2 linked regions of the Homo sapiens genome follow. The protein of the gene in region 1 binds, or shares a complex with, the protein of each later gene. Each region holds a gene or a part of one and is shown on either strand. Other genes may lie near its edges. The genes, in order: NCBP1 and NELFE. A codon is read from its position in the direction of its gene.

Evidence for each region.
Region 2: the proteins of NCBP1 (region 1) and NELFE are in contact, whole or in part, in a crystal structure (PDB 5OOB), measured with the Homo sapiens proteins. Residues at the interface, in NP_002477.1 of Homo sapiens: Tyr461, Lys511, Lys557, Ser558, Ser560, His561, Ser564, Lys568, Ile609, Arg610, Gln612, Cys616, Lys647, Met648, His651, Glu705; in NP_002895.3 of Homo sapiens: Arg362 (codon at 3,661), Ile365 (codon at 3,670), Val366 (codon at 3,673), Tyr367 (codon at 3,676), Ser368 (codon at 3,679), Asp370 (codon at 3,685), Val371 (codon at 3,688), Tyr372 (codon at 3,691), Gly379 (codon at 3,712), Phe380 (codon at 3,715).

Annotation. Positions count from the first base shown.
Region 1 is NC_000009.12:97,628,894-97,636,855, forward strand, and holds the start of NCBP1 (nuclear cap-binding protein subunit 1), read left to right. Parts: upstream 1-4,927; 5' UTR 4,928-4,988; coding exon 4,989-5,022; intron 5,023-7,962. UniProt on the Homo sapiens protein: Component of the cap-binding complex (CBC), which binds cotranscriptionally to the 5'-cap of pre-mRNAs and is involved in various processes such as pre-mRNA splicing, translation regulation, nonsense-mediated mRNA decay, RNA-mediated gene silencing (RNAi) by microRNAs (miRNAs) and mRNA export.
Region 2 is NC_000006.12:31,951,558-31,956,020, reverse strand, and holds the end of NELFE (negative elongation factor E), read left to right. Parts: intron 1-727; coding exon 728-802; intron 803-924; coding exon 925-962; intron 963-1,128; coding exon 1,129-1,466; intron 1,467-1,578; coding exon 1,579-1,723; intron 1,724-1,886; coding exon 1,887-1,941; intron 1,942-2,189; coding exon 2,190-2,292; intron 2,293-3,622; coding exon 3,623-3,720; 3' UTR 3,721-3,934; downstream 3,935-4,463. Other genes in the region: CFB (complement factor B preproprotein), read right to left, coding at 3,991-4,146, 4,417-4,463. UniProt on the Homo sapiens protein: Essential component of the NELF complex, a complex that negatively regulates the elongation of transcription by RNA polymerase II.

The sequences.
Region 1 (7,962 bases):
GCATCAACCACTAGACCCTTCAGATTCCAGATTGGCCTCTGAGCTGAGAGCAGAGACAAGGTGTCCCTGTTGTGCCCTGTCCAAATTCCTGCCCCACAACATAACAACTGGTTATTTCATATTACTAGTGAACTGGCAAAGTTAGTTTCTTCAGGACAATATTGAAGGAGGCAGCCAGAGGTGGACACTGAAGGTTCTGAAAATAGTAACATGCAAAGTAGTCCCAAACTCCACAAGAGGGAGCAGAAAAAGCACCACTAAGAATGAGAGAAAGGAAGGTGGGAGACACTGGTGACAAACTTTGCCAATTCACAACTCTGCCTACAGGGTACCTCAACCAGGTGAAGGCAACAAGGAGCAGTTTATGTGTGGGGGAACACACACTGCTTGTTAACAATGCTGGATAGGACTGATGGAGACTAAACATACACAGACACACACAGGCAATACCAACTTTCTTATAAAGGACCTTTGTTCCTTGGATTCATAAATTAAGATGTCACTTGCACCACATAAAATGCATTTGAATCAGCTAAGTGGTGCTTTCATGGGGCTCAAAATGAGCTTTGTTATAAGGGTAAGGCAAGGTAATACAGATTTATTAAACCTAAATTCTCTTGTATTTGAAAAATAAGTGGAAGAGACTGGGTGAAGAAATACTACCTTCTTTAGCTTCTCTTTCCTTTCTCATGAAAATGTCTTTCATATAAAGTCCCACTGAAAAAAGTACATCCCTAACTCTACACAAACCTGTAAGCCTTCCAGGCAGAAGTAAAATAAGTAGAAGAATCTTATTCAACACACTTCCTCCATGCTCAAAGCTGTTTTATTGTAAAGGTAGAGAAAGTACATATATCATTTCCAAATTAAAATTCATTCAACAAATATTTATGGAGGGTCTTCTAGGTTCCAGGCATTGTTCTAGAAACAGATAACTTATTTACCTATAAGGGCAGTACATTTGGGAGGTAACATTGTCGAAAGGAATTACTATCCAATCCGGTCCCACCTCCAGCATCTTTTCCAATCTCCCTCTATATGACCTGATGTAGTCTGTCCCAGCATTTATGCTTTCCACTGCTTTGTTTCCCTTACTTTTTCACTTCTTTCCCTCCCCATATGCTTACTATGTATATGAAGACTGAACTCAAGTGTCACCTTTCACTTATGTCTTGTCTGCTACCCTGTGTCACTGCTTCCTTTGAAGGCCTGAAAAACTTAGTTTCCCTATACTCTAGGCTCATCTCTGACTATGCTCCCCATTCCCCATCAGATATCCTACTCTAGCCACACTGGACCATGCCCAGTTCCACAAATGAGCCATGTTCTTTCCTGACTCAAGGTCTCTGCACCTGAGTGTGGGGTGCCTTTCCCACCACCCCAAAATGATCTCCTCCGACTCTGCATCTTTTTTCAGTCTCAGCTTATTTTGATTTATGTACATACTCTGAATTATTATTATTTGTGGCACCTCTGCTATGTGCCGGGCCCATGGAATAGTCCTGGGAATGCAGCTATGAATGAAACAGTTGAAGTACCTGCTCTCTTGGAGCTTATATTCTGGTAAGGAGAGACATTAAGTAAGTAATAAACAAACAAACAAACAAACAAACAAATCATGAAAATACCAGCTAGGGATAACGGCCCCTGCTTCTCAGTTTCCTTTGCTGGATCTTCCTTATTACCCCAACCTCTAAATGTTGAACCACTCTATCTATACTTACCCTACAGGTGATCTCATCTACTTCCAAGGACTTAAAACTATATTTGCCTCAAAATAATTGAGAGAGAGGAGGTAATATCAATGAAACCAGATTACCCATGAATTAAGAATTACTGAAGTTGATGATGAGTACATGGGGTTTCATCATAAATTTTCCCTACTTCTGTAAATATTTGAAAATTACATGAGAAAAGAAAAAAGGGAAACATAAAGGAAATTTTCTGTTTAGAATACTATATAATAAATGACTCCATATTTATATCTTCAACCTGGGCCTTTCTCCCAAACTACAAATTCATATACCCCACTGTGTGTGAATTTTACACTGTGTGTGAAGCCAGCTAGCTTCAGCTTCAAATACAACTGTTCAAAACCAAACTTTCGTCTTCCCCAGTCTTCCTTATCTGAGTAAAAGACAATTTTATTCTTCCTGTTATTCAGACAAAAAAAACTTTGGGATGATTCCTGACTCCTTATTTTCTCACACTATCATTCACTTGTTCAGAAAATACTTTTTTTTGAGACGGTTTTCGTTCTGTCACCAGGCTGGAGTGCAGTGGGGTGATCTCGGCTCACTGCAACCTCCGCCTCCCAGGTTCAAGCGATTCTCCTGCCTCAGCCTCCCGAGTAGCTGGGAGTACAGCTGCACGCCACCACACGCAGCTAATTTTTGTATTTTTTTTTTTAGTAGAGACAGGGTTTCACCATGTTGGCCAGGATGGTCTCAATCTCCAGACCTTGTGATCCACCCACCTCGGACTCCCAAAGTGCTAGGATTACAGGGGTGAGCCACCATGCCTGGCCAGCTTTGCTTTTGAAGTACAATCCAATCAGATCACTTTGCACCACCATCTTTACTACCACCCTAGTTCAAGCTACTATCATTTGCAGCTAGAATTACTGCAAAAGCTGAACTATCTTCCTCCTTTGGGAGCATGAGAAGTAACTATTAAAAAAATAAGTCAGACTGGCCCTGCACAGAGGCTCATGCCTGTAATCTCAGCACTTTGGGAGGCCAGGAGTTCAAGACCAGCCTGGCCAACATGGCGAAACCCCATCTCTACTAAAAATATACAAATTAGCCTGGTGTGGTGGCGCATGTCTGTAATTGCCGCTACTTGGGTGGCTAAGGCACAAGAATTGCCTGAACCTAAAAGGCAGAGGTTACAACGAGCCAAGACCGTGCCACTGCACTCCAGCCTGGGCAACAGAGCGAGACCCTGTCTCAAAAAAAAAAAATCATACTCCAATGACTTCTCAATTCACTTGGATAATGTCCAAAGTCCTCACAGAGCACCTTCCCCCTACCTCTCTGATCTCATCTACCACTCTCCCGTTGCTCACTACCTATGATGGCACTATTTGTGGGTATTCCTGAATGGGTCGTTAGAATATATCAGCGCCAAGAGAGCAGGGGTTTTCCTTTGTTCACCTCTACATCCTCAGCATTCAGAACTCTGCCTGGCACCTAGGAGGTGCTAAATGCTAATAAATATAATATTCGTTGAATGAAATAAAACAGTGATTGGGTAACCAAAGAAGGCCTCACTAAGGACCTGACATTTGAGCTGAGACCTAAGTGACCAAGAGCCAGCCACGCAGATTTAGAACCAGAGACCTTCAGGTAAAGGAAATAGTATAAGTTCCTAAAATAAGAACAAGCTTGACTTATTGTAAGAACAGAAAGAGTGGTTGGAGTACAGTGAGGAGAAGTAGAACCCCACAGGCCATGGCATGGAGTGTGCAATGGAAAGTCGTAGGAGACTTTTTTTTTTTGACACGGTCTCACTTTGTTGCCCAGGCTGGAGTGCAGTGTGCGATCACCGCTCACTGCATTCTCGACCTCCTGGGCTCAAGGGATCCTCCCACCTCGGCCCCCAACCCTCCCCTCGAGTAACTGGGACTACAGGCGCCAAACACTAGGCTCAGCTAATTTTTTTTTTTTTCCTGTAAAGACGGTGTTCGCCTTGTTGCCCAGGTGGGTCTTGAACTCCTAGGCTCAAGCGGATCCGCCCGCGTCGGCCTCCCATAAGTGTTAGGATTACAAGCGTTAGCTACCCCGCCCGGCCGTCATAGGAGACTTTTAAACAAAGCAGTAACACGATCTGATTCTGGATTTGTGTTGAAAGCAGAGCAGGCAGGGTTTACAGATAATTGTTATGTAAAAAGAGGGAAAAGAGCTAAGAAAGACTCTAAATTTTTGGATTAAGCGGCCGACGGATGACGTCATTTACTGAAATGGGTAAGACCGAAGGAGAATTAGGCCGGGAGAGTGAAATTTCAGATGGCCATGGACAAAGCAGATAAGCCAGTATGGTGCTCATAAAGACATCAGGGGAGGGGACGCTCACACACAGGCATATAGGTACCCAATAACCCTTGAAAACAGATTACTAAAACAATCATTTGTTCCTTCCTAAGCAAACAACTTAAGGAAAATGACGGCCAGCCGGCAAGCCCGGAGCCGCACGCTCGCGTCAGGGCCGGCCTTTCCATACCAAGGGGCGGCACGTGCGGCACCGCCTCCCGCCCAGGCCCCACCCCGCATGCCGAGCTTGGCCCAACCTCTCCTCCCACTTTTCCCAAGGCGGCAAAAGCCGGAAAGTGGGAGTAGATGAGCACATACCCGCCAGTCCTGATCCTTTCTAAGGTCTCTCTTCCCTGCACTGTCTCCGCCTAGCAATTGTCACTGCTCACCGCCCTCGAGCCTATTCCCCCGCCGCGTATTTGGGTAGAAAAGCTCGCTCGTGACGTCACCAAGCTCCGGAAGTCTCCTGGCGTCGGCGCAAGGGCCGCCGGGAAAACCATTGAGAGGCCACCGGGAAACCATTGAGAAGCCCCGGAGGACCGGCCTGAGCGGAGGCGGAGACTAGAGCGGCCGCCGGCACGACCCGCCTTCAGGCGTACGACGACCGCGGCCCGGGGGCTCTGAGTGGCCAAAGCGGCGGCACTTTCTGCGTGGCCCCGGAAGGACATAGAGCGGAAGGCGGGAGAAAGAAGTAGCCGGCAGGCGGAGGCAGCCCGAGGGGGCGGTTGCATGTGTGCCAGACGTTCGTAGCCCACTGAGCTTCCTCACGCCGGCTGTCGCAGCGCCTAGCCCCACCCGGCGGCCTCTCCTGCGCTTCCGGGGCCGTGGCGAGCTAGTGCGCCTGCGTGCCGGCCCATCCGCGCGCCTTGCAGCTGTCCTTGCGTCGGCCAGCGGCCAGACAGTTCCTGCAGCGCTTACCGCCTGGCCTCTCGGTTCCGCGGCGCACCGGAGGGCAGCATGTCGCGGCGGCGGCACAGCGACGAGAACGACGGTGAGTGCCTGCGGCCCGGCCACGGAGGCCGCTCCCGGTTGGGAGCCGAGGCTCGGCGTCTTTGGGTGTCCACGGAAGAGACTGGAAGCTCTTCTCCCCGGGAACGTGCGGGGAGCCGCGGAGGGAAAGAGGAGAATATGGTGGCGGTGTGGTCGGGCGGCTTCTAGAAAGCGACTTCTCCCCCGCCCCAGTTCTTTGAGTCAAGGGCCGATCCTCGGGAAAGAAGGCCTGGTGAACCCCATGGGTAGACCCTTGGTCTCTAAGGATGCTTCAGAATTTCGTCCGTAAAACCACGGAGCAGGGAAGCACACCTGTGTCTGTGCTGCCGCCTCTTAGGGACCCACTGGTCCTAGTGTCTCGTTTTAACCTTCAAAGCTGCACCTGAAAAGGGCTCGGAAGAATTCACTGAAGGAAAGGACTGAGAGATCTCATGAGTTGCAGTCTGAACTCTGTTCCGGTAGTGGTTATCCGTTGATTTCACTTCTTTCAAGCTGCAGGGAAAGAATATTGTCTTACCTGCGCCCAAGAGGTCCCTAATAAACAGACACAGGTTACTGCAGATTTTGAACTGGCCGTAAGCGCATTTCCCTTGTGTGAGAGAGAGTGCTAGAAAACTAACTTCAGGCCTCTGAGAGAGTTAGAACAGGGGTTCCCATCTCCGTTTGGATGATTGTGCTCGTGGAGATCAGTGTTGCCTTCATAAAGATGGAATAATTCTAGTTTTAACAACAACAAAAAAAAGATGCTTATATTACACATAAGCCTTACAATCGGTCAAAAACACAAATCCACACACCAAAAAAGTAAAACTTAGAGTAATTCTATTGTTAACATTTTAGTGTATTGTTTTTTGAAGAGAGTGTATAGTAGTGGTTAAGAGATGAGACTTTGGAACCAGAGGGTTTAGGTTCAAAGCCAGACCCTACCATTTACTTGGTGATCTTGTCCAGGTTATGAAATCTCCTTAAACTTTAGTCTGTAATACAGAAGTAATGATATTTATATCTTCTGGTTTTTGTGAAGGTTAAATGAGGTAATACACATCAGCAACAATGATGTTTTATCATTTGCCAACGCTTAAGAGGCGGTAAACGTTAGCAGATGCTGTCAATGTAAGAAAAAAACCCATAACAGACATTTTAAATTGAGTAAATTTTATCTACTAACGTTTGTCTCTCCTTGAGTGTTGTGGCAGTTGAGGTGGAGGCAGAATCGCATGCATTTAGTTTTAATAGTGAAACACCAGATTTCTACGAAGGAATGGCTTGAGAGGATATTCTAGTCCAGCTTTCTATCTGACACCTAAGGGTCTAGAGACTGAGCATAACTAAGATGGAGGGACAGCTGTCAGTTCCCAAACACCAGCAAGAGCGAATCCAGTCCGGGGCTCTCTTCACTACACAGGTATAAATTAAATAACTATGCTGCGTGCTTTGATTTCTAACACGAGGTTTCTTGTGTAACCTCTGTACAAGGCACAGAAAATACAATTCCCTCCCTTTTTTTTTTTTTTCTGAGACGGAGTGTCATTCTTTGTCAGGCTGGAGTGCAGTGGCGCGATCTCGGCTTACTGCAACCTCCGCCTCTCAGGCTCAAGTGATCCTCCCACCTCAGCCTCCTAAGTAACTGGGACCACAGGCGCGGGCCACCACGCCCGGCTAATTTTTTTTTTGTTTTTGTATTTTTTGTAGAGACGGGGTTTCGCCACGTTGCCCAGGCTGATCTTGAACTCCTGAGCTCAGGTGATCCACCCGCCTCGGCCTTCCAAAGTGCCGGGATTACAGATGTGAGCTACTGCGCCCGCCGATAATACAATTTTCATATGCTTTGTAATTGACTAGTCAAAAACTAATATACTTCTCAAGTCATTACTTGGGGGCTGGAGAACTTGAGTCTTTTGTTCTTTTCTTTGTTGTTCTAATGCTTCCTTTTTCTCACTTAGAGGTAATCCCTAAAGAGAGAGGAAATGTCATTGTAGGGCATCCTAGAGAATTGGAATGCTAATATGTAGAAAAATAACTTTTGCTTTGGTTATTGGGAGACTTACATAACTTTCTTGGAGTTGGCTTGTTTTTAACACCAGCTGGCAGCCAAATCACTGTCCATTTGGGTCTTGCCGCGAGAACCTCAGAGTAAATAAGACAAGTAAAACAAAGCATTCATTAAGCAAAGGTTTTTATGGTTGATATTTTAGTGTGGGAGAGGCAGATACAATTCATGTTTGATAATACAGCAAATCTGAAATTTTTGTCAGTTGCCACAATTTGGATAACGATCGCTGGAGTTTACCCTACACAGTGATCTGAATCAGATTATTTTGGATGCTTTCCTTTTAGTTAAAAATCTATTTTTTAAAAAATAAATCTTAGAAGCTTAAGGATTATAGAAGGCTATTTTAAAATAGGGTAGGAATTATTACAGTCAGAATTAAATAGATGCATCTGAGCATTTCTGGACAATTGTCAGCTGCTGTCAGTCACTGCCCTGACTTTCCGTATGCTTGACTCTCTATATATAGAGTGTGTGTATATATATAAACTATAATAGAATGTATTATATATATTTATATATTATATAAATTTATATTTATATATTATAAATTTATATTTATATATTATATAAGTTTGTTTATTATAAGTTTTATATAAATATATACTCTAATATATATTTTACATATAATTATATACTGTATATATAGAAGCAAGCATATGGAAAGTAATACATATATATATATATATATATATATATATATATATATAAAATCATTTATTCAACAAATACTTAACAGTGCCAAGCTCTGTCCTAATTACTTGCCATACAGCAGTGGACAATATAAAGATAGAGCCTCCCCTCTAGAGTAGAGAGAAGACAGTCAAGTAAAGTATAGTGTATCATATAGTGACAGGCGCTATGGAGTGATACCAGGTAAAGAGGGGAGAG
Region 2 (4,463 bases), on another chromosome or scaffold:
AGGCGGAGCTTGCAGTGAGTCGAGATTGTGCCACTGCACTCCAGCCTGGGTGACAGCGAGACTCCGTCTCAAAAAAAAAAAAAATTAGCAGAATGTGGTGGTGCACACTTATAGTCCCAGTTACTGAGGAGGCTGAGGCCAGAGAATCACTTGAACCCAGGAGGCAGAGGTTGCAGTGAGTGGAGATCACACCACTGCACTCCAGCCTGGACGACAGAGCAAGATTCTGTCTCAAAAACAAAACAAAACAAGCCACAATGGCAGGTGCGGCAATGGCTCATTCCTGGTTAATTTCAGCACTTTAGGAGGCCGAGGTAGGAGGATTGCTTGAGCCCAGGAGTTTGAGACCAGCCCTGGCAACATAGTGAAACCCTATCTCTACAAAAAAAAAAAAAAATACAGAAATTAGCCAAGCATGGTAGAGCACATCTCTAGTCCCAGCTACTAGGGAGGCTGAGGTAGGAGGATTGCTTGAGCATGGGAGGTCAAGGCTGCAGCAAGCTACGATTGCTCTATTGCACTCCAGCCTGGACAACAGAGCAGGACCGTGTCTCAAAAAAAAAAAAAAAAAATAAGTAAAACCACGTCAAATAAGAAATGTATGTAGAATTAAAAGGGAAGAAAAGATCAGAGGAAACCTAGAAGAGGGTGAGGGAAGAGGAACACCTCTGGTCCATGGTTGGGCAACCTCCTGCTCCACACTGAGGTAGGTCTCTCACCACTCCAGGACCCCGAGAAGGGACCAGTCCCCACTTTCCAGCCGTTCCAGAGGAGCATATCTGCTGATGATGACCTGCAAGAGGTAAAGGCTCCTAATTTCTGTCCCTGAGGGGTTGGGGATGGAGGAATATGAGAGACAAATATATTTTGGACCACATGTCAGCAACTGGAAATCATCTTAACTGTTCTTGGTCTCTTTTACAGTCATCCAGACGTCCCCAGAGGAAATCTCTGTATGAGAGGTTAGAGAGTAGAGATAAGGCTGGGCCCATTTGGTGGAGTTGATTGCCTGAGTCCTTGGGAGGTTTGGGCTGTAGGAGCTGGGCTATAGAGGGAATATTGAGTCTCCACAGGGTCTGAGGGGAGAAGGTAAAACCCCCCTTTGATCTTCAGTCTGCATCTCCCCAGCTTTGTGTCTTCTAGTGATCGACTTCGAGAACTAGGACCAGATGGAGAAGAGGCAGAGGGCCCAGGGGCTGGTGATGGTCCCCCTCGAAGCTTTGACTGGGGCTATGAAGAACGCAGTGGTGCCCACTCCTCAGCCTCCCCTCCCCGAAGCCGCAGCCGGGACCGCAGCCATGAGAGGAACCGGGACAGAGACCGAGATCGGGAGCGGGATCGAGACCGGGATCGAGACAGAGACAGAGAGCGGGACAGGGATCGGGATCGGGATCGAGATCGAGACCGGGAACGGGACAGGGATCGGGAGCGGGATCGAGACCGAGACCGAGAGGGTCCTTTCCGCAGTGAGTGATTTTGGCTGGAGGTCAAGGTGACCTTAACTGAGGTTTATGTGGGTCCTACTAAGTGAAATGTGGCATGGTCTATGTCTTGTGACTATGATTTGTGCTCCCAAAGGGTCGGATTCATTCCCTGAACGGCGAGCCCCTAGGAAAGGGAATACTCTCTATGTATATGGAGAAGACATGACACCCACCCTTCTCCGTGGGGCCTTCTCTCCTTTTGGAAACATCATTGACCTCTCCATGGACCCACCCAGAAAGTAAGGATGACAACAGGGCATGATGAGAAGTCCTGGGAGAATCCTGGGGTGTGAGACCTGAGGGAAGAAGCTGCCCTCCCTGCAGCCGCCTATTATCACTGGGTTTGGTTGGGTCCAGAAGAGCCCCTTGGCTCTCCACTGACCGTGTTTTCTCTTATCCCAGCTGTGCCTTCGTCACCTATGAAAAGATGGAGTCAGCAGATCAGGCCGTTGCTGAGGTTGGAACTTCCCAAATCTGTTCTTCCCATCGCTTCTGCTGTTCTCATGTGTTCTCCTCAAAATACTAGATGCCAGGAAGAAGTTGGTTCCTCTTGATAAAGAAAGCCTCTCCCTATTCACACAGAAAAACTCACATTCTCAGATTCCTTATTCAGTCTCCTCCTAGGATAGCAACTCCTGGAATAACTTCTTTGGTTTATCTGTAATGTTTTCCTCCCCATCCTCTGCCTCCCCTCTTCTGCTTCAGCTCAACGGGACCCAGGTGGAGTCTGTACAGCTCAAAGTCAACATAGCCCGAAAACAGCCCATGCTGGATGCCGCTACTGGCAAGTCTGTCTGGGGCTCCCTCGGTAAGAATGGGATTCTTCCTTTCCCATCCTCTCCCCCACAGGCCATTCCTTTTGGTTCCCCCACACATCCTTGGGTTTCCTAGAGATGATCGAGGTCAGAGTGTGTGCGGAGGCTATGGGAATGGGAAGGAAAATTTCAGATCCTCTGTCAGTTAGAGGTAAAGAAAGGAGAGAAAAGGATTGAAAACAGCTTCCAAAGCAGTGACTGGAACAGGGAAGAAAGTGGGAGCTGGAGTGAGATTGGTGAGGAAGATGAGTGTCTCATGGGGCTTGTTCATTTTGAGATGGAGTAGAGTGAGTTTCATAAGTATTCGAAATCAGGGATCTGGAACTCAGGTGTGAGGTAAGGAAGGAAAACATAGATTAAGTCATCCACATCACAGGGTGGCTGCCAAACAATAGGATCATCAGGGAGACTCTGATTTCAGAGAAAAAAAAACGACCCAGGACTCAGTTTGAGGAGTACTCTGGGACTATGTTAGGAAACAGGACTGTTCACCTCACACCCCACATGTCCCCAGCTGTCCTGACATGTTAGGCTAACGTTGAGCCTAACGTTAGCAAAGGAGACAGGAGGAGGGGTCGGAGGGCTGGGAGCAGCACCGCAGGGGCCTGGGCCACTGAAGCAAAAGGACACACACTTTGAGAAAGAGGGAGTAGCCAGCAGTGTTGAGGCACAGAGATCACAGGATGGGAGTGGGTGAGAGAGATTCTCTGTAGCTCAAGGGTGGTGGGGATGGAACCATTGGATGGGGTGAAGAGAGTAACATGTCTGGTGGAGGGAGGAAAGAGGAAGGGGAAGAAACAGCTAGAGGCTTGAGAGAGAATGGTGAGGGCCAAAGCTACACCCTGAATGAGTTCTGGTGGAGCTAGTAGCATTTCTTAGTGTGAATAATCCATTTTCCCTGAAAGTAGATTTTCCTGGGAAAGGAGTGAGCAGAAAGAAGGGCTCAGCTACAGTGGCCCTTCAGGCAAAAGAAAGGAACTAGAATTGACCAGCATGTCAAAAAAGGGCTACAGAGGTTTTCTAGTTTTTAGCTTCTGACATACTGACTGTAAGTAGTGGGTTAATATCATTCACGTGTCTCAACAATGACATTTGGGATTTTTCTAAGAACAAAACATTCATCAAAATGTCCACTTATACTTTTCTTGGCCATGGGTTGGCACAAAGGAGCTAAGGAAGACAGGCCATCCTGGCCACCAGAGGGCAGCGTGGAAACTGGGCTTCCAGGGGCCAGTGGCCAGGAGTGAGGTGGTCAGGAGTCAGCCTCAGGGTCTGTTCTATGATCTCCTTTAGACCTTAACTGTTCCTCTCCTCCCTCCCTAGCTGTCCAGAACAGCCCTAAGGGTTGCCACCGGGACAAGAGGACCCAGATTGTCTACAGTGATGACGTCTACAAGGAAAACCTTGTGGATGGCTTCTAGGGAACAGAGCTGGATTCCTTGTGCCTCATATGCCCCAATGCTGGTCTCAGTAAAACACTGAGGTGGAAGCTTACACATCTCCCTCAGCCTCTGGTTTTTCAGCACTTGGGATTGGGGTTAAACCTTTAAAAACGGCTGTCAGGTTTGATCTCAGTGTAACAACATGGCCAGTGCCTGTTCCCCACTCCCTTGCCCCAAAAGGATCTGGAACACAGGTGTTGTCGCAGCTGTTTTAATTCAATCCCACGCCCCTGTCCAGCAGGAAACCCCTTATAGAAAACCCAAATCCTCATCTTGGAGTTTCTCCTTCAGCCAGGGCAGCACTTGAAAGAGGTTGATGTGAAAGTCTCGGGCGTGAGCAGGTACCTGCTTTTGCCGCTTCTGGTTTTTGCAGACATCCACTACTCCCCAGCTGATTACACCAACCTGCAGAGGCAGTGGGGTGCCATGGATCATTCAGTAGAATTCCTAATCCTGGAAGCATGGCTGTTCCTGCTTGTGTCTTAGCTGACCTAAAGGAATCAGACTAGGGACCCAGCTCAGCCTCGTTCTTGACACACGCAGGCAAGACATGCGGTCCTAAGGTGAGGCAGGCTCTGCCTACCTCGAATTACTAGCCACATGCATTGAGCTTTCCTGCTTTGGGGCCCATGCTGACCACTTGGCATCTCCCCAGATAGGAAAGGGAGGACTCACTTGAATGAAACGACTTCTCTTGTGAACTATCAAGGGGCCGCCAGAAT